4 linked regions of the Homo sapiens genome follow. The protein of the gene in region 1 interacts with the protein of each later gene in a pairwise test. Each region holds a gene or a part of one and is shown in the gene's direction. Other genes may lie near its edges.

The links.
Region 2: the proteins of PRDX1 (region 1) and MAGEB6 interact in binary tests that used the Homo sapiens proteins (3 or more experiments, as listed by UniProt).
Region 3: the proteins of PRDX1 (region 1) and TPT1 interact in binary tests that used the Homo sapiens proteins (3 or more experiments, as listed by UniProt).
Region 4: the proteins of PRDX1 (region 1) and STK4 interact in binary tests that used the Homo sapiens proteins (3 or more experiments, as listed by UniProt).

The regions. Positions count from the first base shown.
Region 1 is NC_000001.11:45,511,784-45,519,389, reverse strand, and holds part of PRDX1 (peroxiredoxin-1), read left to right. Parts: intron 1-335; 5' UTR 336-346; coding exon 347-452; intron 453-3,582; coding exon 3,583-3,736; intron 3,737-4,394; coding exon 4,395-4,517; intron 4,518-4,752; coding exon 4,753-4,883; intron 4,884-6,007; exon of another isoform or gene 6,008-7,606. UniProt on the Homo sapiens protein: Thiol-specific peroxidase that catalyzes the reduction of hydrogen peroxide and organic hydroperoxides to water and alcohols, respectively.
Region 2 is NC_000023.11:26,187,511-26,195,570, forward strand, and holds the start of MAGEB6 (melanoma-associated antigen B6), read left to right. Parts: upstream 1-4,929; 5' UTR 4,930-5,017; intron 5,018-6,275; 5' UTR 6,276-6,336; coding exon 6,337-7,560; 3' UTR 7,561-8,060.
Region 3 is NC_000013.11:45,337,857-45,345,338, reverse strand, and holds the start of TPT1 (translationally-controlled tumor protein), read left to right. Parts: upstream 1-4,155; 5' UTR 4,156-4,269; coding exon 4,270-4,297; intron 4,298-4,553; coding exon 4,554-4,627; intron 4,628-5,154; coding exon 5,155-5,345; intron 5,346-5,736; coding exon 5,737-5,842; intron 5,843-6,562; coding exon 6,563-6,679; intron 6,680-7,482. UniProt on the Homo sapiens protein: Involved in calcium binding and microtubule stabilization. Acts as a negative regulator of TSC22D1-mediated apoptosis, via interaction with and destabilization of TSC22D1 protein.
Region 4 is NC_000020.11:44,990,181-44,997,786, forward strand, and holds part of STK4 (serine/threonine-protein kinase 4), read left to right. Parts: intron 1-4,909; coding exon 4,910-5,077; intron 5,078-6,988; coding exon 6,989-7,126; intron 7,127-7,606. UniProt on the Homo sapiens protein: Stress-activated, pro-apoptotic kinase which, following caspase-cleavage, enters the nucleus and induces chromatin condensation followed by internucleosomal DNA fragmentation.

The DNA.
Region 1 (7,606 bases):
CTCTCTCTGCTTCTGTATAATGAATAAGATGCCACTGCACTAATTATGGTTCAGAAAGAATGAGAGGTTATCTCAGTATATAAAGAAATTGCCTTGCTGTTTTTAAATGAAAACAAAGGCTGAGATTCAGAGACTTGTTTCGTTCCAAAAGTTGGAAAGCTCAGACTGTGACCCTTGACTGCTGGCTGGAGCTTCTTACTAAAACAACATTTAATGTATTCAGGGACACTGGACAATGCCTTGATTGTTTACAGCTAAGTCTCTTTAAGTAGGTGAAGGCTGCTGGTTATGTAGAAAATTAAGGCTTGTTTCTAATTCATTTCTGTTATTTCTAGCTGATAGGAAGATGTCTTCAGGAAATGCTAAAATTGGGCACCCTGCCCCCAACTTCAAAGCCACAGCTGTTATGCCAGATGGTCAGTTTAAAGATATCAGCCTGTCTGACTACAAAGGTGAGAGAATTAACACTGGGCTCATTGAGATGGAGTTATTTTATATTCTAGGGGTGGCTTGTTAGATTTGTGTCAATGTTGTTTGACTGTAAAATGTTTTGTCTCCTAGGAAGAAGTATTTAGGTTGTTACCTTCATGTTGAAGTGGTGATTATCAAGTGATTACAGGGTATATATCCTAGGACCAAACCACTTCTGGAGAAACCACATGCTTCATTATGTCTGGACATACTAGCTCAATTATCTTTTCAGTATTCCTCGTCTATTTTCTTTCTTTATTTTTATTTTTGAGACAGGGTCTCATTCTGTCACCCAGGCTGGAGTGCAGTGGCGCAGTCATGGCTCACTGCAGCCTCTACCTCTCTGGGCTCAGGTGGTCCTCCTACCTCAGCCTCCCAAGTAGCTGGGACTGTAGGGGCATGCTGCCATGCCTGGCTAATTTTTGTACTTTTTTTTTTTTTTTTTTTTTTTGAGATGGAGTTTTGCTCTTGTTGCCCAGGCTAGAGTGCAATGGCGTGATCTCGGCTCACCACAACCTCCACTGCCCAGGTTCAAGCAATTCTCCTGCCTCAGCCTCCCGAGTAGCTGGGATTACAGGCATGCGCCATCATGCCTGGCTAATTTTTTTTTGTATTTTTAGTAGAGACGGGGTTTCTCCATGGTGGTCAGGCTGGTCTCGAACTCCTGACCTCAGATGATCCGCCCACCTCGGCGTCCCAAAATGCTGGGATTACAGGCATGAGCCACCACGCCTGGCTTAATTTTTGTACTTTTTGTAGAGCTGGGCGCCATGTTGCCCAGGCTGGTCTCCAACTCCTGGGCTCAAGCCCTCTGCCTGCCCTAGCCTTTCAAAGTGCTGGGATAACAGGTGTGAGCCACTGCCTCTGGCCCTCCTCTATTTTATTATTGGAGAAATACTCATTATCTCTTGTTATAAGAGACATTCTACATTTAAAGTCTCAGAGCTCACTCAAATCTCTGGAGCTGTGACACTGCTCGTTCAGTTTGTTTGGGTCACGTATATATCACAGCTGTTAATATTAGGCTGAGGGCTAGGCACTTTCCCTTGCCTGTTTTGACCCCGGAGGAGAGTTGATATTACAGATGGAACAACTCTCCTTTCTGTTGTCATAGTTTTTTTTTTTTTTTTTTTTTTTGAGACGGAGTCTCGCTTTGTCGCCCAGGCTAGAGTGCAGTGGTGCGATCTCAGCTCACTGCAAGCTCCGCCTTCTGGGTTCATGCCATTCTCAGGCCTCAGCCTCTTGAGTAGCTGGGACTACAGGCGCCCGCAACCATGCTTGGCTAATTTTTTTGTATTTTTAGTAGAGACGGGGTTTCACCATGTTTGCCAGGATGGTCTCGATCTCCTGACCTTGTGATCCGCCTGCCTTGGCCTCCCAAAGTTCTGGGATTACAGGCGTGAGCCACTGCGCCCGGCCTCTGTTGTCATAGTTTCATGCAGACACTTGGCAAGTTCTGTTGAGGCTCCTCCTTTCTTTACCTTGTAGTTCCAGAGCAGCTCGATCTCCTGGGACAGTTGAGGATATAGATTCCTTAGAATGCTAACCTGAAACTCAGGTGTCAAGTGTCCTTTTCTCAGTGGTGTAGCATTAGTCCCTGGAGTTAGTTTTTGGTAGAACATTTGACTAGGTTTCCTGACATAATCACACTTTGTTCTTGGGGCTTCTCCCAGCAAACAAGGTAAGTTGCACCATAGGGAGGTGACCTGGGCCCAGGGGTATAAGCAGGAGGTCTAGGAGGAGCTGTTCTCTGCCCTCCAGAGCTTGACCTGCTGAGGCCCCAAAGTGCTTGTTAGGCAAAGCTGGAAGGGTTGTTTAGATGAGTTAGTTTCCAGTGATACTGCAAAGTGGTAAATGTCAAAAAGGGCTGCTTGTTTGGCTTTTTTTTTTTTTTTTTGAGGTGGAATTTTGATCTTGTCGCACAGGCTGTAGTGCAGTGGCATGATCTCAGGTCACTGCGACCTCCATCTCCCCGGTTCAAGTGATTCTCCTGGCTCAGCCTCCCCAGTAGCTGAGATTTCAGGCCCCCGCTGTCACACCCAGCTAATTTTTGTATTTTTAGTAGAGACATGTTTTACCATGTTGGTCAGCCTGGTCTTGAACTCCTGACCTCAGGTGATCCACCCGCCTCGGCCTCCCAAACTGCCTCCCAAACTGCTGGGATTACAGACGTCAGCCACCATGCCACCACACCCAGCCTGTTTGACTTTTCAAACATTGCTGCTACCTGGAAATGAGTGAATATTTGGAATTGTTCTAGTATTTAAGCCTGGTGGGTGTGGCGAGAAGGCTGCCTGGCCAGTTTGAAGATCTGTTATTTCAGTGGTTAATCCCAGTGACTTCATTAAAATTGCAGCTAGAAGTTCTGTTACTCACTAGTACTTTTGTCTTTTCTGTCTCTCTCTGTCTCCCTCTTTCTCTCTCTCTCTCTGTGTATATGTATATATATATTTCTGTTGTTTTGAGACAGTCTTGCTGTGTTGCCCAGGCTGGCCTCAAACTCCTGGGGTCAAGGGATCCTCCCACCTCAGCCTCCCAAGTAGCTGGGACTACAGACACGCACCACTGTGCCTGGCTTAAAATTTTTCCTGTCCTGTCAGGCACGTTAGGAACACATGTGATCACTTAAACCATGCTTGTTCCATTACTATGGTTCATCACGGGAGAAGTGCAAAGGCTGTGACTTCTTATTGGTGTCTTATCTCTACAGCAGAGGAGTACTGCAATTCAGCTTTCTCTGGGTATTGTTAAGCATTGGCATTAGGCCATGCTTATAAGTGCATCCTTGCTTTTGCTATCTTTGGAGAACTTGGTGTTTATGTTAATTTTAGCCACTCAGAAAAGATCAAAATTAGACTGAACAGTGTTTACTCTGTATTGGTAGCTATGACATGGAGGCAGGAGAATAAAGTATGGGATTGGAAGTTTTTTTCATTCAGGTATTCCTAATGCACCAGGTTCTAAAAGTAGCTTCTAGGAGACATCTGTATTGAGCATCTTGGCAGTTAGTGGTTATTGTGTCAGCCATCAACTTGCTTCTTTTTGTATAGGAAAATATAAAGCAAGGAAGTCTGTGTCAAATGCTAACCATGACTCCGATTTTCCCCCCAGGAAAATATGTTGTGTTCTTCTTTTACCCTCTTGACTTCACCTTTGTGTGCCCCACGGAGATCATTGCTTTCAGTGATAGGGCAGAAGAATTTAAGAAACTCAACTGCCAAGTGATTGGTGCTTCTGTGGATTCTCACTTCTGTCATCTAGCATGGTAAATCTCTTGGTCTATTTGGCATGTGAACTTTTTTTTTTTTTTTTTTTTTTTTGAGATGGAGTCTTGCTTTGTCGCCCAGGCTGGAGTGCAGTGGTGTGATCTCCGCTCACTTCAAGCTCTGCCTCCCAGTTTCACGCCATTCTCCTGCCTCAGCCTCCTGAGTAGCTGGGACTACAGGCGCCTGCCACCATACCTGGCTAATTTTTTGTATTTTCAGTAGAGACGGTGTTTCACCGTGTTAGTCAGGATGTTCTTGATCTCCTGACCTCGTGATCTGCCCACCTCAGCCTCCCAAAGTGCTGGGATTACAGGTGTGAGCCACTGCACCTGGCTGGCATGTGAACTTTTAAAACAGCAACTGGGAAGCTTTGGCAATAGACTTTCAAGTATTGCCTTCTCATTGAAGGGAGTGCAAAGTCTGACTTTCTCTTATTGCTCTCATGACCTGGCAGCAGAGAAGAAGCAGCTTCAATTGCAGTTGAGTGTACCCTAGTGACCTACCTTAACTGTTCTCAGCATTCACTTTATTGCTGGAAAACGGAAAAAAAACAGTCTTTTTGGAAAGTTAGATTAGGAATATGGGAAAGGGGAAAGAGGAATGCGTACAGTCAAGTCAAGAGTTTGAATGTAACTGTATGTTTGCCTTTTGCCATAGGGTCAATACACCTAAGAAACAAGGAGGACTGGGACCCATGAACATTCCTTTGGTATCAGACCCGAAGCGCACCATTGCTCAGGATTATGGGGTCTTAAAGGCTGATGAAGGCATCTCGTTCAGGTATGTCATCAGGACAAGTATCCAGTTGGCTGAAAGCCTTTTATTTGGAGAGATCTAGAGCCCTGATCTGTAGAGACTCCTTGTCATTTCATTCCTTTATGCAGGGGCCTCCTCACTAAGGCCAGGCCAGTAGGAGTGTGGAGACCAGTCCATTTCCTTCAGGCTTCAAGCCTCTGTATTCTAACAAAGCACATCTCTAAACCTGTATTGCTTTTCCTTTCATCTCTTTTCCCAGGGGCCTTTTTATCATTGATGATAAGGGTATTCTTCGGCAGATCACTGTAAATGACCTCCCTGTTGGCCGCTCTGTGGATGAGACTTTGAGACTAGTTCAGGCCTTCCAGTTCACTGACAAACATGGGGAAGGTAAGCCATCTGTCTGATAACAGGACAACAGAGTGGTGGTATGAAGGGGTGGGTTGCCCCTTCACACCTGTGGGTGTTTCTCGTTAGGTGGAATGAGAGACTTGGAAAAAGACACGTAGACAAAGTATAGAGAAAGAAATAAGGGGGCCCAGGGGACCAGTGTTCAGCATACAGAGGATCCCGCCGGCCTCTGAGTTCCCTTAGTATTTATTGATCATTCTTGGGTGTTTCTCGGAGAGGGGGATGTGGCAGGGTCATAGGATAATAGTGGAGAGAAGGTCAGCAGATAAACACGTGAACAAAGGTCTCTGCATCATGAACAAGGTAAAGAATTAAGTGCTGTGCTTTAGATGTGCATACACATAAACATCTCAATGCCTTAAAGAGCAGTATTGCTGCCCGCATGTCCCACCTCCACCCCTGAGGCGGTTTTCCCCTGTCTCAGTAGATGGAACATACAATTGGGTTTTACACTGAGACATTCCATTGCCCAGGGACTGGCTGGAGACAGATGCCTTCCTCTTGTCTCAACTGCAAAGAGGCGTTCCTTCCTCTTTTACTAATCCTCCTTAGCACAGGGTGTCAGGCTGGGGGACCCCGGTCAGGTCTTTCCCTTCCCACGAGGCCATATTTCAGACTATCACATGGGGAGAAACCTTGGACAATACCTGGGTTTCCTAGGCAGAGGTCCCTGTGGCCTTCCGCAGTGTTTGTGTCCCCGGATACTTGAGATTAGGGAGTGGTGATGACTCTTAAAACGAGCATGCTGCCTTCAAGCATTTGTTTTAACAAAGCATATCTTGCACAGCCCTTAATCCATTTAACCCTGAGTTGACACAGCACATGTTTCAGGGAGCACAGGGTTGGGGATAAGGTTACAGATTAACAGCATCTCAAGGCAGAAGAATTTTTCTTAGTACAGAACAAAATGGAGTCTCCTCTGTCTACTTCTTTCTACACAGAGACAGTAACAATCTGATCTCTCTTTTCCCCACAGTGGTAGAATGGGAAAGATAGTAGGAACAGAAGCTACCAAATAAGAAAATGGGTATCTCTCTTCATAAATTGAAGCCCCTGGATTACAGTGTGTTGTGAGGGTGAGGGTAATGGAAAAGCTTGGGAAGGAGAATATAAAGGCTTTTTATTCAAAGTATACATACTCCTCTCTTCTGTCCTGCTCATTTAGAATCAGTCACTCCCAAAGATCTAACTTACTGAATGTAGGATGATCTCACAGATGTATTAGGGCAAAACAAAATGGTTGGGAATCACCTCTAGAGATAAAGCATGCCATTTTTTAAATAACTTTATTGAGAGAAGAGGTTAATCCATATAGTTCATATTTTTATTTATTTATTTATTTTTTGCAAGATGGAGTCTTGCTCTGTTGCCCAGGCTGGAGTGCAGTGGCGCAGTCTTGGCTCACTGCAACCTCCGCCTCCCCTGAGCCATTGCGCCCAGCCCAGACTAGCTTTCTAAGGCCTATTTCAGCTCTGATCTTGTAATTTAAAGGAAATGAAGTTATTAGAGTCTGGATTAGTGGTGTATGTTTGGGAAGACCCAAAGGTGCTAGCTTGGCTAGCACCAAGTAATCTTTTTACAGGGATTAGAGTCTGATTATATAGGGATCAGTGAGCACTGATAACCAAGAGGTACCCTTTGCAGAAGGATGTGTGGGCAGTTAGCCTGGACAGATGACACATGGCTCAGCTGACACCTGCTGAGACTGCCCCCTTGTGGGAGATGAGGTTCAGCATTAAGAAGGAGGCAGCAGTGGCAAAGTAGGCCCTTTAACTGGACTTTCCTAGGAACCTACATATAGGTTAGTCTCCTGAACCCAGGCTTTCATAACTCAGAAGCTTGCTTCTTCAGACTCTGTTGGTCTCTGCTGCTTCCCATCCCACTGGAACATGTACAGCCTCTTAAATAGGTACCATTTAAGAGCCAATGAATGCCAAACACTTTTTTTTTTTGAGACAGAGTCTTGTTTTGTCGCCCAGACTGGAGTGCAGTGGTGTGATCTCAGCTCACTGCAGCCTCCACCTCCTGGGTTCAAGTGATTCTCTTGCCTCAGCCTCCTGAGTAGCTAGGACTACAGGGGTCCACCACCACGCCCCACTATTTTTGTATAGTCCCAGCTACTCGGGAGGCTGAGGCAGGAGAATGGCATGAACCCCGGAGGTGGAGCTTGCAGTGAGCTGAGATCGCGCCACTGCACTCCAGCCTGGGCGACAATGTGAGACTGTCTCAAAAATTAGCCAGGTGTGGTGGTGGGCGCCTGTAATCCTAGCTATTTGGGAGGCTGATGCAGGAGAATCGCTTGAACCCGGGAGACCGAGGTTGCAGTGAGACGGAGGTGGAGATTGCGCCACCGTACTCCAGCCTGGGCAACAGAGGGAGACTCCATCTCAAAAAAAAAAAAAAAAAAAAAAAAAAAGAAAAATAAGAGATTAGTCCCCTTGCCTCATTTTCTTCAGGCTAGCCTGAGGCACATTCTTAGGCATTGTCAGGAAAAGGTTGAAGGCTGTGCTTTCTGTATAAATCTATGAAAAATTTCAAACTCTGCCTTTTGCTTACCAAGGGGTAGATGGCAGTTACTTAATGAAACAAGCGGGGGCTTCTGTTAAGTTCTTGATCCTTTATAAGGTTCAGGCTATCCAGTTTGGTAGAGTTAGAAGAATGCTGAGAAGGCAGACTGAGTTTGCTGTCTTCAGAGCTCTGAA
Region 2 (8,060 bases), on another chromosome or scaffold:
ATTGCTAATGTCAAAAATGAAAGAAAGGCCATCACTGATTATTCTATTGACATTAAACAGATAGTAAAGGAATGTTATGAAAAATTCTATGCCCACCAACTTGGTAACCTAGATGAGACAGACCAATTCCTTGAAAGACACAATCTACCAAAACTCACACAAGGAGACTGAGATCATCTTAATAGGCCTATATCTATTAAAGAAATTGAATCAATGACTGATAAGCTTCCAAAAGAGTAAACAACAGTCCCAAATGAGCTCACTGGTGAATGCTGTCAAATCTTTAGGAAGGAATGATATCAATTCTCTACAAACAAGCACAAAGATGAAAAGATGCTTTATATCATGGATCATTAGGGAACTGCAAATTAAAACAACAATCAGATATCACTACACATGTATTAGAGTGGATAAAATCCAAAACACTGACAAGACACATACTGGAGAGGATGTAGGGCATAGAATCTCTCATTCAGTAATGATGGCAGTGCAAAGATGGTACAGCCTCGTTGGAAGACAGTTTGTCAATATCTTACAAAATTAAAATACTCTCGTCATATGATTCAGCAGTTACTCTCCTTGGTATTTAGTCAAATGGGTTGAAAACTGATGTCCACACCAAAACTTGAATACAAATGTTCAAAGCAGCTTTATTCCTAATTGTCAAAACTTAGCAGAAACCAACAAGAATTAAGTGTCCCACAAGCATACAATGAAATATTGTTTAGTGATTAAACAATGTGTTATTAAGCTATGAAAAGACATGCAGGAGCCTAAATGCATATTGCTAAGTGAAAGTAGCCTATTTGAAAAGGTTACATGCTGTAGGATTCTAACTATATGACATTCTGGAAAAGGCAAAATTATGGAGACAGTTAAAAAAAGGGGGGTTCTGGGGGGATGGGGGAATAAGGGGAACACAGTGGATTTTTTTTAGTATAGTGAAACTGTTCTGTATGATACTGTTATAGTGTGTACGTGTCATTCATTTTAAAAAACCCATAAGATATATAATAGAAAGATTAAACTCTAATATAAATGGTTAACTTTAATTAATAAAAATGTATCAATATTAGCTCATCAATTTTAACAAGTATACCACATTAATGTGTGATAATAATAGGAGAAACTGTGTGTGAACCGATGAGAGGGTATAAGAGAATTCTTTGTATTTACCACCGAATTTTTCTGTAAACTTGGAAACTGCTCTACAAAATAAAGTATGCCCATTAAAACTCCATCCCTGTGTTATATATTTAGAGTAGTTTGTTTTCCTGGAATAACCCATGAATATTTGCAGTTAGCTAATTATTTGTATTGATTTTCTCATCTGAAGCTCTTTCAGCCATTAACAATTTTAAGCAGCCATTTTAAGAATGGCTGCTTAAAAAAACATCCATTCTGTCATTAGTAATTAAATTTGCTCAAGTGTCTTCTATCATTAAGTAAAATATAACACAACACAACATACCATGGCTCTTTAAACCTCCTTTAAATAATTCTCTGTTTCTGTCCTAAATAAATTTTACACTCCCTAGTTTTTGTATGCATAAACACACACACAAAATATATACATATATTTATATTTAGATATTGAAAATATTATAGAGCATTAAGAGATATATGTTCAGCTTGTAAAAAAATTGAGCTCTACACATAAAGTTCTATTAGCATAATTGTTGAAAAGTAGCCCAAGCAGTACTTATGGGGATATTTATTGCATTAAATAGATTTACTATAAAAAAGTTTGAAACATTGTAACAATTCAAGAAGCTAGAGAATGAATAGCATATTAAACACAAAGAAGAAGGTAGGAATAATGAAGATAAATTCAAAAGTGATAAATGAGAAAATAGTCAAACCAACTAGTAAAAGCCAGTTCTTTGAAAGGATTTATATAACAATGTGTATGAGTACCATCAATTACAAATGAAAAAAGCAGAAATAAATGATATTAGATAAGTAAAATTATACAAAACTTAGGTGTAGAAAAGATGTAATACTAATAGAGAACACCGTAAGTGTTATCAAGTATTATCTGTATCTCAAGATAACAAATGATGGACAAGGAGAAGGTTCTATCTGAAAAATTTCGGGTAATAAACTCAAAAGAATTTTAGAATCAGAGAATTACCATCTTGCAACCCATGATAGATTAATGGATAAAAGTGATGGCTGCCAACATCATCACAAAAGAAACAACAGAAATTATATATCTCTTAATGAAACTGCACCATATCACCTCTGGAGTGCACTTGCCAATAAACTTTAATATGAACAATATTCTACTCATAAAAATTGAAGATTATTAGTGACAAATCTTAGCTAATTGAGTTTATTATTCTATTCTCTGTACTACTGCATATATTTGAGAATTTCCATAACAGGATTTTATTATGAATATCATGCTTTTAAATATGAAAACCTAAGTAAAATGGAACAATTTTTAGCAAAATGAAAATGACTCATAAAAATACAGAACTCTTTGAATGCACAGTAGAAAATGAAACTATAGTCCAAACCCAAAGTACCTTCAAACTGTTTTAGGACCAGCCAGGTTTAGAGACCCATTACATCAAATGGTGAAGAAGAAACTAATCACCACTTCATGTAAACTCTTCCAAACAACACGAAAAGATTGGGAGAATTACTCCATCATTTTAACAAGCTTGCTTTCTTTGACACAAAGACCAGATGAAGATAGTCCAATAAAACAACATTTGAGATCAGTTCATTCACATAGAGACAAAATATTCTCAATAAATTCATAGTATATCCAATATAGGCATATCCAATATAGCAGTGAATTAATGAATAAATAGCCTGCATCCAAGAAATGCAAAGATGATACCATATTAGAAAATACCATCAATTGGAAATCACTATGTTACCAAAAATGGTGAAAAAGCATGTGATCATGTGCAGGGGTAAAGGAGAAGCCTTAAAAAACCCTCAATACCAGTGTATGATAGTAACTTTTAGCAAACTTACATTAGGAGAGAATTTCCATCTTGTAAAATCTATAATTGACATACTAAATGTGAAACATTACAAACATCCCGAATAGAGTCCAGAAGAATATACACCTGTATAGTATAAACCCTACTGCTGACAACTGGATGAAAATACATCTATAGTTCACAACTATAATAATAATACCGAGTAAATTAGAGGTAACAATAACAAAAGGAGATAATTGTGATAATATAATCTCCTAATTTAAAAATAAAACAACGTAATTGGTGCAAAAATATTTAAATGTATAAGGAAATAAAGAAAACGTGTGTACAAAAGATCACCATAGGTAAGTCAGGAGTATAGTCACACAAAATCAATAACTAATTATAATATGTAATGTGAAATATGCCTTTCACAACAGCAACAATATCCAAAATATATCTAACAGAAAACCAAATAGAAATGTACATGTTCATTAAGGAGACAGCTATAAAAATTTACTGAAAGACTTAGGAAAAATAAATCTCCAATAAAGCAGTGTACTATGTTTATTTACTGTGGAGGAGATATTGTAAAGTTATTGATTCTCCTTAAATTTTTTACAGATTCATTGCCTTAGCCATAGCTGTGAAGATGACAACCAAACCCGGGTGGTTCTTTCCCATGACCAAACTCAACCATAGAAAAGTTAAAGGAAGAATTTTTTTTTAAAAAAAAAGCAGTATTAACAACAGCAAAACAACAAAAATGCGAACCTTGAGAGATGGTCAGTTTGTATTGAACAAGAATGGGTGTGTGGGCAGGTAGGGGCATGAGCTGAAGTAGAGACAGGTCTGTGGCCTACAACAGACGCAGATAACGGAATTGGCTAGAGGAAAAGCTTTAAAACTTTGGTCTTTGCTTCTTTCACTGTGCCATTGGACAATGCATTTTTTTTTCTGCTTCACTAAAGGAAATTCAGTCAGAAACTTGGACCCTATGTGCCAGTTCCATGGGGTAATATTGCCACAGCAAAAACATCTGGGTAGGCTGAAGAAGTATGAATCCAGACACTGTGCTAATAACTACCTGAAACTTCTTTAGTGGAAGTGGACTGGCCTTTAAATTCGTATTATTTTAATATAATATAAAGAATGGACTAAATTAGGATAGCAAATATTGCAGTGAGTCACACAAGATAATGGTAGAAATTCATTCATGAAGGTGTTGAATACAGACACTGATGTCAGCCAAGAGAGAAGTCCCAGACATAGCTATCAGGCTAAGAAGTCTTCTCACTTTCTCCTTATGAATTTTACAGGATCTAGTCAGAGGAAGGGGATGAATTTACATCAGAAAATGGAGAAAACTGAGACCCTGCCAGCAGTCAATGTGAGGACCCTGAGTGAGGACTGAGGGGCTCCACATATCAGAAGAGACAAGAGTGCCCCCCAAATCTCCCTTCATTCCCCGATCTTGCATCACAACTTAATAGCAGCAGCCAGGTTTAGGAGGCCCCAGGCAGTAGTGGCCAGGTGAGGTGTAACTGAATTGCACATGAGGAGTCTCAGGAAGTTGAAGTCTAGTCTGAGAGGGTGTCCTCAAGTCAGTAGAGGGGACATGGCAAGAATGAAGCGACGACACTGAGTGAGGGCTGAGGGCAAAGTCCATTCCAAAAAGGGGGTCTCACAGAGCTCCACCCCTACTGTCAGTCTTGGAAGGTCCCGGCATGGCTCCCGAGCTCAGGCTGCACCTTACTTCCAACTCTGGACTCTCAGGGAATGAGAGCCTCTATCTCCGGTTGACTGATTCAGCTCAACAGATAGAGAAGTCCAAGGGTCCGCGAAGAGCCCCTGAAAGAACTTTACGTGAGTTCCCTGGAATCTGCTGCACCCACAGAACACAAGGGGGAGTAACAGAGCCCTGCAGCTACTGTTACGCAGGGAGCGCCAGGTGGGCGTGGCCGGAAGTGGTTCCTCTTGACTTCCACCTAATAAAGGGGTCTGAGCCGGTCGCCTGAGCCTGAAAAGTGCTGTCACGTCAGCGGAAGGAGGCGTCCCAGATCTTCTCAGCTGTCTTGGTGGGTATCCTGACCTAGAACGGGGGGCATTCCCCGACAACTTCAACCCCCTTCCCCCGAAGAAAGGCGGCTCCACAGAGCCCTGCCCCAACCTGCCCCGACCTGGTCCCTGAGGAGTCCCCAAACATGGCTGTTAGGCCCAAAGTCCATTCATTTTTTTCCGTCGTGTTGAAGAACATGAAGGCCTCGGTCCAAGGCTTGTGGACCCAGGTCAGTAGAGGGAGAAATCTCAGGCCCTACATAGTTAAGAGGACCCTCCTTAGAATTGAGGGAGGGGATTCCATGTCCCGTAACGGGTTGCACCGAACTCTGCCCTTGACGTTAGCCTGGGGGTCCGGGCAGGTCTCTAGAGACTGAGGTGCATTCTCACTTTGTCCCTGTGAGAGTCAGAGAGGTAGGCCCCTGGTTGTAAGGAGATGGCAGCAGGTCAGTGAGGGTGATTTCCAGGTTGTGGGAAGAGTCAGGGTGAGGAGTCTAATTACTGTGAGGAGCATTCTCACTATAACTGGAAGAGCACTCAAATGCCTCCGCTGTTGTCAGCCCTAGGTGGTCTGGGTGTCCCCGGAATGAAGTGTTGGGCAGAAGTGCTTCCTTATTTCCTCCGGGTTAAAATTCCTACTGTCAATTTCAGAGTGGCACAAGGAAATGGGCCTCTGGGTCTTGTCAACAATTTTTTTTTTATTATACTTTAAGTTTTAGGGTACATGTGCACAATGTGCAGGTTTGTTACATATGTATACATGTGCCATGCTGGTGTGCTGCACCCATTAACTCGTCATTTAGCACTAGGTATATCTCCTAATGCTATCCCTCCCCCCTCCCCCCACCCCACAACAGTCCTCGGAGTGTGATGTTCCCCTTCCTGTGTCCATGTGTTCTCACTGTTAACTTCCCACCTATGAGTGAGAACATGCGGTGTTTGGTTTTTTGTCCTTGCGATAGTTTGCTGAGAATGATGGTTTCCAGTTTTAATGATGATCCTGAATGTAAACAGAGAGGATCCAACCCCTGAACAGAGGGGCCCCCACTGCCAGCCCCTGCTGTCACCTCAGTAAGCCCCAAAATGGGCTGTCATGCTATAGTCTAATACTCTAACTTCCTCCTGAGTTTGAAGGAGACAAACTGACCAGGAGAAAAGGAGTCCTGTGGGTTCCTAGAGCAGCTGTTCTGCGGAAACCTGCAGAAGGGGCCCTAGTTAAAGCCAAGATGGTCGCTCTCTGCTGAAGATATTGACGTGACGTCACTCTCTCCCATCCAGGTGCCAGCCTTCCTAGTCTTCCTACCCACACTCCTACCTGCTGTCACAGGCCACAGCCATCATGCCTCGGGGTCACAAGAGTAAGCTCCGTACCTGTGAGAAACGCCAAGAGACCAATGGTCAGCCACAGGGTCTCACGGGTCCCCAGGCCACTGCAGAGAAGCAGGAAGAGTCCCACTCTTCCTCATCCTCTTCTCGCGCTTGTCTGGGTGATTGTCGTAGGTCTTCTGATGCCTCCATTCCTCAGGAGTCTCAGGGAGTGTCACCCACTGGGTCTCCTGATGCAGTTGTTTCATATTCAAAATCCGATGTGGCTGCCAACGGCCAAGATGAGAAAAGTCCAAGCACCTCCCGTGATGCCTCCGTTCCTCAGGAGTCTCAGGGAGCTTCACCCACTGGCTCTCCTGATGCAGGTGTTTCAGGCTCAAAATATGATGTGGCTGCCAACGGCCAAGATGAGAAAAGTCCAAGCACTTCCCATGATGTCTCCGTTCCTCAGGAGTCTCAGGGAGCTTCACCCACTGGCTCGCCTGATGCAGGTGTTTCAGGCTCAAAATATGATGTGGCTGCCGAGGGTGAAGATGAGGAAAGTGTAAGCGCCTCACAGAAAGCCATCATTTTTAAGCGCTTAAGCAAAGATGCTGTAAAGAAGAAGGCGTGCACGTTGGCGCAATTCCTGCAGAAGAAGTTTGAGAAGAAAGAGTCCATTTTGAAGGCAGACATGCTGAAGTGTGTCCGCAGAGAGTACAAGCCCTACTTCCCTCAGATCCTCAACAGAACCTCCCAACATTTGGTGGTGGCCTTTGGCGTTGAATTGAAAGAAATGGATTCCAGCGGCGAGTCCTACACCCTTGTCAGCAAGCTAGGCCTCCCCAGTGAAGGAATTCTGAGTGGTGATAATGCGCTGCCGAAGTCGGGTCTCCTGATGTCGCTCCTGGTTGTGATCTTCATGAACGGCAACTGTGCCACTGAAGAGGAGGTCTGGGAGTTCCTGGGTCTGTTGGGGATATATGATGGGATCCTGCATTCAATCTATGGGGATGCTCGGAAGATCATTACTGAAGATTTGGTGCAAGATAAGTACGTGGTTTACCGGCAGGTGTGCAACAGTGATCCTCCATGCTATGAGTTCCTGTGGGGTCCACGAGCCTATGCTGAAACCACCAAGATGAGAGTCCTGCGTGTTTTGGCCGACAGCAGTAACACCAGTCCCGGTTTATACCCACATCTGTATGAAGACGCTTTGATAGATGAGGTAGAGAGAGCATTGAGACTGAGAGCTTAAGGCAGGGCTGGCACTATTTCCTTGGCCAGGGTACCTTATGGGGCCATATCCTACAGATCCTCCCATTTCTAGGGAGGTCTGAAGTAGAATTTTCACTTTATGTTAGAAGAGAGTAGTGAGCTTTCTAAGTAGTGCAGTATAGTAGAGGCTGGAGGGAACAAGATATGTATCTTTCTTTTGTTACACATGAGTAACTTGCAGATTTATGTTTTATCTCTGTCAGTTATCAACATTGTTCCTGTTAAGTGAAGGTTTATTTTGCTTCAGATTATACAATTATCAATAACATAGCTCTCACATTCATGGCTGTTTAACCAATCTGAAAGTTACGGTTTGGGAATTAATAAAACAAAGTCATACAACACATTTTCTTTGTAATTGAGAACTAGATAACATGGTAACAGAGAATTGATTTTCATATGAATCTTAACTCCACAGTAAAATAGTTGACATCATAATATGAAGAGAAAGAAAAGGAAAAACAGAAATGTAAAAGTTGT
Region 3 (7,482 bases), on another chromosome or scaffold:
TGTATTTTTAATAGAGACAGGGTCTCACCATGTTGGCCAGGCTGGTCTTGAACTCCTGACCTCAGGTGATCCACCTGCCTCGGCCTCCCAAAGTGCTAGGATTACAGGCATGAGCCACCACGCCCAGCCGGCTTTTTTTTTTTTTTTAACTAGTCAAGGACAGTAGTGAAAAAGGGAGGGGAGAAAAATTTTCTGCAATTTCTTTTTTTTTTTTTTGAGACAGAGTCTCGCTCTGTCACCCAAGCTGGAGTGCAGTGGTGCAATCTCGACTCGCTGCAACCTCCACCTCCCAGGTTCAAGCAATTCTCAGGCCTCAACCACCCGAATAGCCGGAACTACAGCCGCCTACCACCATGCCTGGCTAATTTTATTATTTTTAGTAGAGACGAGGTTTCACCATGTTGGGCAGGCTGGTCTCAAACTCCTCACCTCAAGTGATCCGCCCAACTTCACTTCCCAAAGTGTTGGGATCACAGGTACGAGCCAGCTCACCCAGCCTGTTTTCAGCAATTTCTTTCCCGCCATGCAGCCCTCCTGCAGTTGCCTCAAGTTACTTTCAAGATGTGACTGTTGAGCAGTTTCCTGCTAATAGAGGGTCAGAATGATCACACTTCTCTCAGCCCCTACACAGCAAGCCAGATCTCCATTTGGCTGTTTTCTCTTTCTGGCAAAAATTGTTCAAATGAGCTAGAGTCAAATATAAGTATTCACAAAACACTGGGGTCATTTAAAAAAATCATTTGCTGAAATTGAAGAGTTTATGGTGCCAAGTAATATATTTGAAAAGAAAATTTGCCCAAGTCAATGGATTTCAAAACACTTGACTTATAACCACAGGAAGAAATATATGTGGGATCTAGTACATTCATACATACATAAATCTAAAACATACCTGGGAGTGGTGGCGCGTGCCTGTAATCCCAGCTACTCAGGGGGCTGAGGCAGGAGAATCGCTTGAACCTGGGAGCCAGAGGTTGCAGTGAGCCGAGATGGTGCCACTGCACTCCAGCCTGGACAACACAGCGAGATTCATTCTCAAAAAATAATAAAATAAAATAAAATAAAATAAAATAAAATAAAATAAAATAAAAATAAAATAAAAGCTTCACAAAATAATACTCACCTTTACTGTGATTCGCCTTTATATATGATTTTTCTTTTCTATTCTTATTTCATTTTAAATAAAGTTGTTCACTATTCACTAAATTGTTTCTCAACCGTCTGTTTATTCTCATTGGTTGGGTGTTCAAGATCTTTTCTTTTCAGAGCCCGCAATTTTATCAATAAAATTTTTGTTGTTGTTTGTAGTTTGAGACAGAGTCTCGCTCTGCTGCCCAGGCTGGAGTGCAGTGGCGCAATCTCGGCTCACTGCAACCTCCGTCTCCCAGGTTCAAGCGATTCTCTTGCCTTAGCCTCCTGAGTAGCTGGGATTACAGGCAACCGCCAACAGGCTCGGCTAATTTTTGTATTTTTAGTAGAGACGAGGTTTCACCATGTTGGCCAGGCTGGTCTCAAACTACTGACCTCAAGTGATCCACCTGCCTCGGCCTCCCAAAGTGCTGGGATTACAGGCGTGAGCCACCGCGCCCGGCCAAAGGCAAGATTTTAATCTAGGGTGCCATGACTCTTCAGTACTTTTTTTCACCACGACTATATTTTTATAAAACTTAAAGAACTGTTTCGACCTGAATATGAGATTGGGCAGTTGAGAGTAATGTTTGAGAGTACTGCATGGGTCAATGATAATATTTCTGAATAGTTTGGAAGTATTAAAACTGAAGAAAATAATTATACTTGCCGGGTGCAGTGGCTCACGCCCGTAATCCCAGCACTTTGGGAGGCCGAGGCGGGCAGATCGCCTGAGCTCAGGAGTTTGAGACCAGCCTGGCCAACATGGTGAAACCCTGTCTCTACTAAAAATACAAAAAAATTGCCTGGGCGTGGTGGCAGGCACCTGTAATCCCAGCTACTTAGGAGGCTGAGGCAGGAGAATCGCTTGAACCCGGGAGTCAGAGGTTGCAGTGAGCCGAGATCATGCCACTGCACTCCAGCCTGGGCAACAGAGCAAGACCCCATCTGGGCGGGGCGGGGTAGAAAATAATTATACTGTAATAATCTGGAAAAAAAATGTTCACACAGTATTAATGTGTGATAATCATCTCATACATTCCAGAAATGAGGTTTGAGAGCCTTCACTGACCATGTGTCATATCCATTTATTTTGGGATCCCTTTCACCCCATTTTTAACTTCCTCCCAGTTGCCCAATGTCCTCTGGAGTTTTCCATCCAAGACCCCCATCTTTTTTTTTCCCTTTCCCCCCTTTTTAGCTTCCTCCCAGTTGCCCAATGTCCTCTGGAGTTTTCCATCCAAGAACTCCAGCTTCTTTTTTTGGGGGTGGGGGAGGACGGGGTTTCACTCTTGTTGCTCAGGCTGGAGTGCAATGGCGCGATCTCGGCTCACTGCAACCTCCGCTTCCCGGGTTCAAGCGATCCTCCTGCCTCAGCCTCCCGAGTAGCCGGGATTACAGGCGCGTGTCGGGATCACACGTGTGAGCCACCACGCCCAGTCCCCCCATCTTCTTAAAGGGGTTAATTTCTTGGCTCTTGCATTTTGACTTTTCCATCATTCCAATTGCCATCCTGTGTCCTGCTCTTTCCCAAGGGTTGCATTCTTACTCTGCTGAATGCTATATTATTGGATTTATGAACAATTGTTAATGTATTATAATTGTCTGATACTTTGATTTACCAGAATGAACACTTCTATAAGTAGGACTGGATCGAACTTGTTCACAATTGGAATCTTGGTGCAAATCCTAGTTCTAAGGGATACAAAGCACAAAATATTTGCGAAATAGAACAAGCTTTCAGACTTCATACTGGCATGTATCTTTGCCTTATGCCAAAGATGTGACGATGTGACTAAATACGGAAGTTTTGTTTTGCTATTGAGCCAAGGTCTTGCTCTGTCATTCAGGCTGGAGCGCAGTGGTGCAATCATAGCTCAGTGTAACCTCCAACTCCCGGGCTCAAGCGATCCTCCCAGCTCAGCCTCCCTAATAGCTGGGATTACAGGCAGGCACCACCGCACCCAATTAATTTTTAATTTGTGTGTGTGTGTGTGTGTGTAGAGACAGGGTTTCAGTAGTTGCCTCCCAAAGTTCTGGGATTACAGGCATGAGCTACCATGCAGGACCTGTTTTGTTTTAATACTTAGTAATTGGGTGTAAAGTCCTTCAAAAAACAGGTGGGGCAGGTGGGAAACTCCCTTTGTGTGACCCTCTAGCACCAGGGATAAAATTTCAACTTCATCTTAAAGCGACAACATACTTTTCCAAGACCAAGTGCGAAATAGTAAAGGGAAGAGCTAGCTCCGTAGCCGTCCGCCACAGAATGCCACAAGCTTTCAATTATGGGACAAAATTGGAACACATGGAAACCCTGTGCAGACTCCCGTGACATCTTCCCTCCTCTCCAAGTCCCTTCCCACAGACCTTGCGCCCCACACGATTATTCCCCAGGGGCCGAGCAGGACGACTTGGGTCCCACTATCCGGACTCAGCGGTGCCCCCACAAAAGCGTCCCAAAAACTCCAGCTGGGGCAGCCCTGGGGCAGATGCTGAAAAGTTGTCAGAGGCCCTCGGGCAGTCCCGAGATCTACCCCAGGCCAGAGGGCCTGACCCTCCCTAAATGCGACGTTCTCCTACCTTGGTTGATACTCACGTTCCCAGAAAAGGGTGGAACCTAGGCTGGACGAGGCGCAGGGCCAAAGTTTAATTCCTCTAAGCTCCACCCAGCTCCCAGCACCTCTCCAGGCGGCCCCGTGGGGTAGGGCGGAGCCGGGTCCAACGTACTCCGCTTCCCCCGCTCCACCCACCCAGGGCTAGGGAGCGCCCCGAGAGTTGGCCTCCTCCCACGCTGCGCGCGCACCTCCCCGCCCCCACCCCTACCCGCTGGCGTGCCCAGTGGAACGGAGCCTTGTGTCTCCGCCTCAAGTCCCCGGATGCTCACCTCCCCGACTCGCCCCCGCTGTGGCCCCGCCCCCGCGCGGCTCTTCGTGCCACGTCACCGCCTGCGTCGCTTCCGGAGGCGCAGCGGGCGATGACGTAGAGGGACGTGCCCTCTATATGAGGTTGGGGAGCGGCTGAGTCGGCCTTTTCCGCCCGCTCCCCCCTCCCCCCGAGCGCCGCTCCGGCTGCACCGCGCTCGCTCCGAGTTTCAGGCTCGTGCTAAGCTAGCGCCGTCGTCGTCTCCCTTCAGTCGCCATCATGATTATCTACCGGGACCTCATCAGCCGTGAGTCCTCACTGCACTATCCTTACTGCCGCACACGGGGGTCTGGGGTGCGGGTGGGGGCGGGGAAGGCGCAGCCGTCGCGGGCCTAGGGGACGCCGGCGGTCTTAGCCGAGCGCGGAGGGGTCGGTGCCCGGGGCTCGCGCCCAGCTCTGGTGTGCTACGGAGGGGCAGATCCCGCGTGCGGCCGCCGGCGCGGGAAATGCGGGAAATGGCGGCGCCAGGCGCACGGTGATGGGCGGCTCTGTGTATCCGGCAGACGATGAGATGTTCTCCGACATCTACAAGATCCGGGAGATCGCGGACGGGTTGTGCCTGGAGGTGGAGGGGAAGGTGAGTCGGTCGGGCCTGCGCGTGGGGGAGTCCGGGCCGAGCGGGCTCGGGTTTCCTCCGCTCCCCCGCCTGAGGTTGTGCAATCCTCCCCGCCGCCTCCTGGCGGAGGAGACGCTCTTTCCGGGCTTGGGTTTTTCTAGAAAACTGGAGGCGGAGCTGATCCTGGAAATAGGCCCGCCGCCTCGGCGCCCATCCTCCTCCCGGGGTTGTCCGGGACATGATGCTTCCGGCTTAGGAGCCTGGAGTCCTTTCGTGTTTGTCCTGTCCCCACTTACCAACCGGAGGCATCACATGCCCGCAACTGGAAACAACTTTTTAATGACCCCATTTTTTGTTCCGGCCAACAGACAACTCTTTTAAGTTAGGTCGTTTTGAGAAATCCACGGGTCACAACTTTATTCCCAAAATGGTGCTTTTTTTATTTTCAGCAAGAACTAAGAATACTTCTTATCCGTGAACTATTGGCGTGGAAGGTGCTTTGGATGCGTTTGTGTCTTTTGCAATTATACTGCTTTTTCTTAATGCAGATGGTCAGTAGGACAGAAGGTAACATTGATGACTCGCTCATTGGTGGAAATGCCTCCGCTGAAGGCCCCGAGGGCGAAGGTACCGAAAGCACAGTAATCACTGGTGTCGATATTGTCATGAACCATCACCTGCAGGAAACAAGTTTCACAAAAGAAGCCTACAAGAAGTACATCAAAGATTACATGAAATCGTAAGTGATACTGGCAGTACCTAGCTGATGTCTAGAATCTTACAGGATTTAAAGATTGGCTAACTTTTGAGGTTCTTTCGCAGTGGGTATACTTTTGTGAAAGTCCTTGCTTTTTTATTAATGAGTTCACGGAAAAGAGTGGTTGCTTTTCTATAATATGAGCATACTGAAGCCTGCAGTCTGTTTCCGTTTAGAATTAGAATAGTATTTTGAAAATAGTCAACAAGAAATGTAAACATTCTTGAAAGATACCTTCTGTGAACTAGTAATTTCTTAACAGCTGGTTGCCTTTTTCAGTGTTTTCTTTTTTTAAGCTTGGATATTTTTTACTTTAAAAATTGATTTTACTGAAAATTCAATACTTCAACCTGTTAATGAAATGTTGTTTTAGAATCAAAGGGAAACTTGAAGAACAGAGACCAGAAAGAGTAAAACCTTTTATGACAGGGGCTGCAGAACAAATCAAGCACATCCTTGCTAATTTCAAAAACTACCAGGTAAATACCTTAAGTATCTGGATCAAAGGATTGTACAATTTTAACTGCAAGAGCAAAAATTAAGTTGATTAATCTTCAATTCTATACTAGTATTCCAGGTGTAGAAAGTGGCTTTCCCAGCTCGCAGGTGTTTCCAAATCTTGTCTTCTGATTGAAAATTTGCTTCCCAGATGACATTTCTCAGTTTTTCTTTTTGTGAATTGCTTAACCACCTAAGTGTTCTTTCAGTTTTTTGCTTACAATTTTAATGTGTCTCATTGCTACTGGTCCTCCTTCTAATGTATCTGAGCTTGTTAATTCTACTTTTGGAAAATGTCAGTGGCTTTCCCTTTCCTCTAATTTTCCAGCTTCATGCATCCCCTGGCCATAAGATACTTCCAGACTGTATGATATATTCTATCACTGTCAGCCTTATGTTCCCTGTGGTTGACTATATAAGCACGCTTTAGGGTTTGGGATTGTATTTAGGATTGAGAGTAAAGGTTTCCTGAAAGCCTAGTGTTCCTGGATTGCTCTGTACGTTATTTTTCTATTTAGGTCACTATTAAGGTGCCTTAATCCAGTGAACAGATGTCTATGATAAGTGAGCATCAGAGCTTTTGGGTACTGAAGTTTTGATTTTTGTGGTGGTCTAAACCTTCCCTTGTACTGTAGTTTGTTTTGAATGGCATGTATTTGTATGTAATAGTCTAATTCTAGGTATTTTGTTTGCTTCCCAAGTTCTTTATTGGTGAAAACATGAATCCAGATGGCATGGTTGCTCTATTGGACTACCGTGAGGATGGTGTGACCCCATATATGATTTTCTTTAAGGATGGTTTAGAAATGGAAAAATGTGTAAGTACAAGGAAGTGGGTTAAAATAAATAATGTAAAAAAGACATTTTAGATGTGATTTGCAATTGTTTTGTGACACTGAGAATGAGTTTTACAGCGTTCTGAAACATGGTTTTAGTTTTCTCTTTGGGGATCAAGAGAATTGTGTTTCATATGTAAAAAATTCTTAGGGTATAAAAAGGCTTAGAATCTTATTTGTGGAAAACGTTGAGTGCAGATGGGGCATAATAAAGTACAGTTTAGGCTGGGTGTGGTGGCTCACACCTGTAATTTCAGCACTTGGGACGCCGAGGTGGGTGCATCACCTGAGGTTGGGAGTTCGAGACCAGCCTGGCCAACATGGCGAAACCCTATCTCTGCTAAAAATACAAAAATTAGCCAGGCATGGCAGCGGGCACCTGTAATCCCAGCTAATCGAGAGCCTGAGGCAGGAAAATCACTTAAACCTGGGAGGGGGGTTGCAGTGAGCAGAGATCCCACCACTGCACTCTATCCTGGGTGACAGAGTGAGGTGCTGTCTCAAAAAAATACAGTAGAGTTTAAATGCTGAAGGAGATCAGAGAACACCATTGATCTTCCTCTAGATATGGCCTCACTTTCACTTCATAATCATATTTTGCTGTATACGTATGGATCAGTATCAGTGGTTTTCACTTTGGTTTACTGATAATGGGCAGCTGATCATTGAAAAGCCTAGTGCAGTACTAGCTTAGTAAATAGAGCTGACTGCTGAACTGGTATGCAAATTGTTTTACTAATAATAAATAACTTGGTGTCTTCTATGGAAGGAACTGCTGGAAGCTG
Region 4 (7,606 bases), on another chromosome or scaffold:
TCTTTCCATTTATTTAGATTTTCTTTAATTCTTTTAGCAATGTTTTATAATTTGCAGTGTACAAGTTTTGCATGTATTTGGTTAAATTCATTCCTAAGTAGTTTGTACTTTTTGATACTATTTTAAATGGATTTGCCTTATTTTCAGATTGTTCATTGCTAGTGTAACATACAATTGATTTTTGTATATTATCTTGTGTCCTGGCACCTTGCTGGACTTTTTTTTTTTTAAATTAACTGTGAACATGTATGTTGTTTTGTTAAAAAAAATGAGATTTTTTTTCCTTCACTAAAATAAACTGAAACTGTAGTACAAGATGATCTGACTTGGCTGTTTGGTTGTGAAACCTCCAGTACTACTAAGTTTAGGCCCCTCTCCGGTCTCTTGTCTAGAGGCTGTAGGCCTTGTTGGCAGCTTTCTGGGAAGTGGTGGTGGTGGTGGCAGTGGGGATTGTTAACATGTTAATGCTCATTTAATGTTCCTGATTCACAACACCACCCACACTCTCTATAGTCTAGAGATCCTCGGTTTCACTCCCCAGAGAGTACACCTCCAGTCTAATGCCAGGGTGGGGCGAGGGAAGCCCACTAGTTGCTTGATGGGAGAGGAAGGTTTAGGGTGCTTAGCTGCTTCTTAACTCTTTCAACCCAGGCTTCCTATTTGGATGTCCGTTTTCACCCCTCTTTTCTCTGCCTGATGCCACCAATTTCTAAGTCTTTTGGAGGGGTTGGTGTTAAAATCAGGTTGTTTCCTAGTTTTCCTGGCGACTGACTGAGGATTCCATCTGATAGTCTGTTCAGTTAGTTACTATTGGGCCATCTGCTCTCCAGCTTTTAAAATTCTGTGGCTGTAGTTATTTTCCCCTTTGTTTTTTTATTCTTGTAGATTTATTCTTAAAAAACAATCCTTTTAGTATCTTTTTGAGTGAGTTTTGAGAGATAGTGAAAGTAAAATGTATTTGCTCAAGCTGTCATCTTTACCCAAGACTCTGTAATATTATTTCTGGTGGCAACATGGGTATTTCATTGTATGGATATAGCATGATTTATTTAACTCTTTCCCTACAGTTGGATGTTGGGTGCCCATTAAGGTTGCTTAGAGTTTTCCCACCACTATAAACATAAACTCTGTGATTAACATTCTTGCAACTAAATTTTTCAGCATTTCCTTGAGTAAATCCTTAGGATAATTTATTTACATTGGAATCTAGGTCAGAAAATATGTGAATGTATATTGGCAAAGTGCTTTTGATGCATAGTGCTGAATTTCTTCTAGAAGTGAACAGTTTCAGTTTCCAACTTCAGTATATAAATGTGCTCTTTTCCCCTCATATTTGCTAATGCTGAATGGGCAGCAACTTGTATCTTCCCTGCTATTTCTCAAAGCAGTTGACATATTTTTGCATTTAATTATTGGCCATTTATAAAAATTCGTTTGTAAATGTTCATTTTTGTGTCAGTTTTCCTAATTGAATGTTGTACTTTTTTTTTTTGTTTTTGGGAGACAGGGTCTTGCTCTGTCACCCAGCCTGGAGTGCAGTGGCACAATCACGGCTCACTGCAGCCTCAACCACCAGGCTTAGGTGATACCCCCACTTTTGGCCTCTTGGGTAGCTGGGACTACAGACGCACACCACCACCCCCAGCTAATTTTTAGTAGTTTTTGTAGAGACATAGTTTCACCATGTTGACCAGGCTGGTCTCAAACTCCTGAGCTCAAGCAATCTGCCCCCCTTGGCGTGCCAAAGTGCTGGGATTACAGGTTTGAGCCATTGTGCCTGGCTGAGTGTTGCATCTTTTAAATAAATCTTATTAAAAAAGATAAACTAAAAAAATTTATGTTAAAATTGTTACTCCTATTTTGTATATGCTGAAATATCTTCTAGTTTACTAGTTGTCTTTTAATTTTGATTATGGCTTTTTAAAAAAATACTACATAAGTTTCCAAATTTTATATAGAAAAATCCATCTACCTTTTATCTTATGGTTTCTATCTTTGATGTCATGCTTAAAAAATCCTTTTCTCCTTAACATTATAGAATGGTTAATCTATGTTTTTTTTATTTTTTATTATTTTATTTTATTTTATTTTTTTTTGAGACAAGGTCTTGCCCTGGCACCCAGGCTGGAGTACAGTGGCATGATCATGGCTCATTGTGGTGTCAAACTCCTGGGCTCAAGCAATCCTCTTGCTTCAGGCTCCCAAGTAGCTAGGACTACAGGTGTGTGCCACTTCGCCCAGTTAAAATTTTAACATTTTTTATAGAGATAGGCTCTCCCTATTTTACCCAGGCTGGTCCGGAACTCCTGCCTCTGCCTCCCAAAGTATTGGGATTAGAGGTATAAGCCAGCACACCTGCTCTGTTGCTCAGGCTGGAGTGCAGTGGCATGATCATAGTTCACTGTAATCTTGAACTTCTGGGCTCAAGTGATCCTCCCACCTTAGCCTCCCAAGTAGCTAGGACTACAGGCATGTGCCACCATGCCTGGCTAATGTACTGTTTTTTTTTTGTTTGTTTTTTGTTTTTTGTTTTTGAGACAGTCTCGCTCTGTCACCTAGGCTAGAGGACAGTAGCGCAATCTTGGCTCACTGTAACCTTCACCTCCCAGGTTCAAGTGATTCTCGTGCTTCAGCCTCCCGAGTAGCTGGGATTACAGGTACCTGCTACCACACCCGGCTAATTTTTTGTACTTTTAGTAGAGACGGGATTTCGCTATGTTTCCCAGGCTGGTTTCGAACTCCTGAGCTCAGGCAATCTGCCCACCTCTGCCTCCCAAAGTGCTGGGATTATAGGCATGAGCCACCGTGCCTGACTGTCTAATGTACTTCTTTAAAGTATTCGTTGGGCTTTGTTTTTTATGTTTAAAATTTCAACTTATTTGAACTTATTTTGGTGAAAGTATAAGGTAGGCATTTAAGTGTAGAGTTCTACAAATGACTAGATTCCCAGTGCTTTTTTTTTTCATAATCTATTCTTTGCTTGCTGATTTTAAATGACATTTTAATCATAAATCATATGTATATGTGGTATATATAACAGGTTATTATATATACATATATATGATATATATGTACACACACACATACATATACACATATGCCATAGTGAACTTCTGGACTTTATATTTTTTATTGCTATGCTATTGTACTAATATAACTTTATAATACAAATCTAAGTGGGGTTAGTGTACACTCATTGCTCTTATTAATTTTCAAAAACTTTCTAGCTATCCAAGTAACCATTTCTAATTGAAATAATCCAGTGAAAACAATTTTGACTATCACCATTTGAAAACACCCTTGCAAATTTGAAGTTTCAGAGCTAAGGAAATGACTAAGCAGTAAGTTAGTTCCTGTGTTAGTTTTTTACATAGGACTGACAATGAGATTGATTTAAATGACCTGTCATTTGCTTCTGACTGGCATAGCCTAAATCACAGGCATTTCAGAAGGAATATCAGTGATGATGATCGGAAGTCCTTTTTCGTATTTAGTTCTGTTTAAAAATTCTTCTTTTGCTGGGCATTGTGGCTCATGCCTGTAATCCCAGCACTTCGGGAGGCCGAGGCAGGTGGATCACCTGAGGTCAGGAGTTTGAGACCAGCCTGGCCAATGTGGCGAGACCTTGTCTCTACTAAAAATACAAAAATTAGTCGGGCATGATGGTGGGCGCCTGTAATCCAAGCTACTTGGGAGACTCAGTCAGGAGAGTCGCTTGAACCCCAGGGGCGGAGGTTGCAGTGAGCCAAGATTGTGCCTCTTCACTCCAGCCTGGGCAGAAGATCAAAACTCTTTCTCAAAAAAAAAAAAAAAATCCTTCTTTTGCTAAAGCATAGGAACTGTAGGGAGGTTCTCTTTCAGTAGGGCCATGCCATCCTGAGAAAGTATGCAAGTGGTTATTTGCTGTAATGTGTACTGTATCCACATATTCTTCTTTAGCCCATAAACTAAGATATTTTGTATATTATTTTTTATATATCAAGTTTAAAATTTTTTTATTGCACATGTATGCTCATATAAACCTTCAGAATGTTACAGATGTATACAGGATAGACAGTAAAAATCTTTAGTGATTCTGCCTACTAGATATAATTAATGGTTTGGTGTGTATTACTCCAGATTTTTTGTGCTATGATATAACAGTGTTTCATATTATTGGTTATTGTTTTATTATTGTTATGATCATCATTATTATATATATTTTCCTTTTACAAAAACAGGGCTATATTATATATAATTGTACAACTTTTTTTTGCTTTGTAATGTATGTTGTGCATTTTTTTCATGCTAGGAAAAGGTATATATCTTCTTTTTTTTTTCTTTTTAATATGGTGTTTCAGTATATGGTTATTTATTATATTTAACTTACTATCTTTTGATGATCATTTGAGTTGTTTCCTTTTCCTCCTCATCTCCCCCATTACAGACATTTCTACAGTCTTTGTGCATATCGTTTGAGATACTTGAACATAAGATAGATTTCAAGAAATAGATTTGGATCAAAGGATATGAATATTTAAAAGTTGAATAAATATTGCCAACTTATGTACTAAAATGTACCAATTTATACTACAGTAACATTTTATTTCGGTGCCTGATTTTCTATGCTATTATCAGCATTAATTATTAATTTAAAATTTTTTGTCAGTCATTTTAGTTTTTGTTTTAATAATTGATTGAGAATCTTTTTGTGTTTCTTTGTCATTTGAATTTCTTCTATGCCTGCTTGATCATGCTCAGAGTATGGTTTTTATATGTATTTCAAGTACAAGGCATTTTTTTATTGTTGGAAAAGCCTCTTTTTCTCAGTAGTTTTTTTTTTTTTCTTCTTTTTTTCTCTGTAGACTTCCTCTGTGGACATCTCAGTAGTTTTAAGCTTAGTGTCAGTCTCTCTCCCTTTCTATTTTAGGATACCATGGCCAAGCGGAATACAGTGATAGGAACACCATTTTGGATGGCTCCAGAAGTGATTCAGGAAATTGGATACAACTGTGTAGCAGACATCTGGTCCCTGGGAATAACTGCCATAGAAATGGCTGAAGGAAAGCCCCCTTATGCTGATATCCATCCAATGAGGGTAAGAAAGTGGACAGAAAGCCAGTGGGGTGGTTAGTTACTGATCATCATTAAAAAGTGAAGTTCAAGCCAGGTGTTGTGGCTCACACGTGTAATCCCAGCACTTTGGGAGGCTGAGGTGGATGGATCACCAGAGGTCAGGAGTTTGAGACCAACCTGGCCAACATGGTGAAACCTTGTCTCTACTAAAAATACAAAAATTAGCTGGGTGTGGTGGCGTGCGCCTGTAATCCCAGCTGCTTGGGAGACTGAGGCATGAGAATCACTTGAACCCCAGAGGCAGAGGTTGCAGTGAGCTGAGATCGTGACACTGTACTCTAGCCTGGGAGAGAGAGTGAGACTCCATCTCAAAAAAAAAAAAAAAAAAAAAAAAGTTCAATGGCTTACTTGTTTAAGTTGCAAACAATAAATGAATTATGTGTAAATTTGTAAGTGTCGCTATAGATGATACACCTCTACTGACTCTAGTTGTAGTCATTAATTAATTTAAGTGTGTTCCACCCCTCTCCATTCCAGAGGTTGTGTATTGATAGCCCTCTGGCAGGACATAGGCCATAGAAATGCTTAGTTTGATTTGTGCTACTCTCTCTCTCTGTCTGTCACTCACTCATTTTGAATAGTTTAGACAACCACATTTTAACATGTCAACATTCACTAGAGCTGAGTAGTGGTTCAGAGTATGAACTCTCTACTTTATCAGTCTCCATGATTCCCTGTTGTGTCACCAAGTATTAGCTGCCACTTATTACAGTATTTCTCTAATGTTTTTCTTATAATAGTGTTAAGAAGAAAGCAAACTGTATTTTTGAACTCATGTCACTGAAACCCAGCCTTGTTCATTTTTTATCTTTCTTCTGCCTGGCCCCTATAGGTGTTTTGAATTTGTAAGTTTTGGTTTGTAGATCCCCATATCCTCTTCATCTGGAGGCTGTGTACTCTCCAACCCCTGTCTCCTTCTAGAATGTTAAGGGCCCATAGAATGCATCTCCAGTGAAGCTCTTCCAGTGCTCACACCCTAAGCAGTTCCCAGGCTTAACTGTCCCAGAACCCTTCATCACAGCACTGTTGTAATACACCCCCCCGCCAACCCTGCCTTCCTCAGGGGCTCTGTGGTCCTCTCCATCCTTCCTTACCACAGCTCTTCCTCTTCTCTGACTAATTAATTCTCCTATTAAAAGACTTACACAAATTCATGTTCCCAAGGTAAGTCCTCCCTCTTTTTTGGGAGAAGGAGTGAGGAGATTTACTAGTTACAATTTTAGATTTAAAGAATATAATTTAAGCTGCTTATTTGTATAGTGTTTTACTTTTCAAAAAACATGGCTTTTTTAAAATTGGAAATTTAATAAATAATAGTCTTATTTTTGGACATAGTAGAATGTAACTGCAACGTAGTGGGCCAATTTTTAATTTTTCCCCCTCACACATGCGTTGATTTAGCTTACTTTGGAAGTTAATGACCCCATTGTGATTTTTGGGACTTCTGGTTGATGACCTTATTGTGTAGTTGCTGCTGACATCTGGGGGTGGTAATAACTTTTAAGAGGCAGGGAAACTTGACAACTATGGGGTCAAGGTTATCTTTAGGATGTAGATACTCTTAGGTCTCGCCTTTCTACTTTGAAAGGCAATGTACTGTGGTTACCAAAATAATAATAATAAAAAAGCTTGATTGATGTTGTGAGGTTTAGGGAACAAGACCCATATATGAGAGAGGGAAAAGGAGAGAGGGAGATATATCAGGTTCTTTAACCATCAGATGCTTAGACTTTTGTTGGAATTTGGGTGAGCTTCTCAGTGGGTAAGTGAAAAATCATTTACCAAGCTTCAAATGTAATTCCACATGTATTTTTTATTGGAGCATTACTTTTATTTTACCAGATCTTTTTGTTTGTTTGTTTGTTCTAACCAGGCAATCTTCATGATTCCTACAAATCCTCCTCCCACATTCCGAAAACCAGAGCTATGGTCAGATAACTTTACAGATTTTGTGAAACAGTGTCTTGTAAAGAGCCCTGAGCAGAGGGCCACAGCCACTCAGCTCCTGCAGGTATGAATCACCCTGTGATGCCATCTCGCTCCATTTCATTTACTTGCTGACCAAAAGATGCCATGAGGTCACCTACGTGGAGATAGTAAAGAAGTATAAGGCAGGCTGGGTGCAGTGGCTCACGCCTGTAATCGTAGCACTTTGGGAGGCTGAGGCAGGTATATTGCTTGAGCCCAGGAGTTTGAGGCCAGCCAGCATGGTGAAACCATGTCTCTACAAAAAGAATGCAAAAAATTAGCCAGGTGTGGTGGCGCATGCCTGTAGTTCCAGCTACCTGGAAGGCTGAGGTGGGAGGTGGGAGAATCTCTTGATCCCAGGAGGTTGAGGCCGCAGTGAGGCATGATTGTGCTGCTACATTCCAGCCTGAGCAATAGAGTGAGACGCTATCTCGAAAAACAAAGTAAAAGAAGTTTAAGACATTCTCTACCTCTAGGGAGGTTTGAATCTATTTGAGTAGAAAAGAATGTTAAATCATTGAAC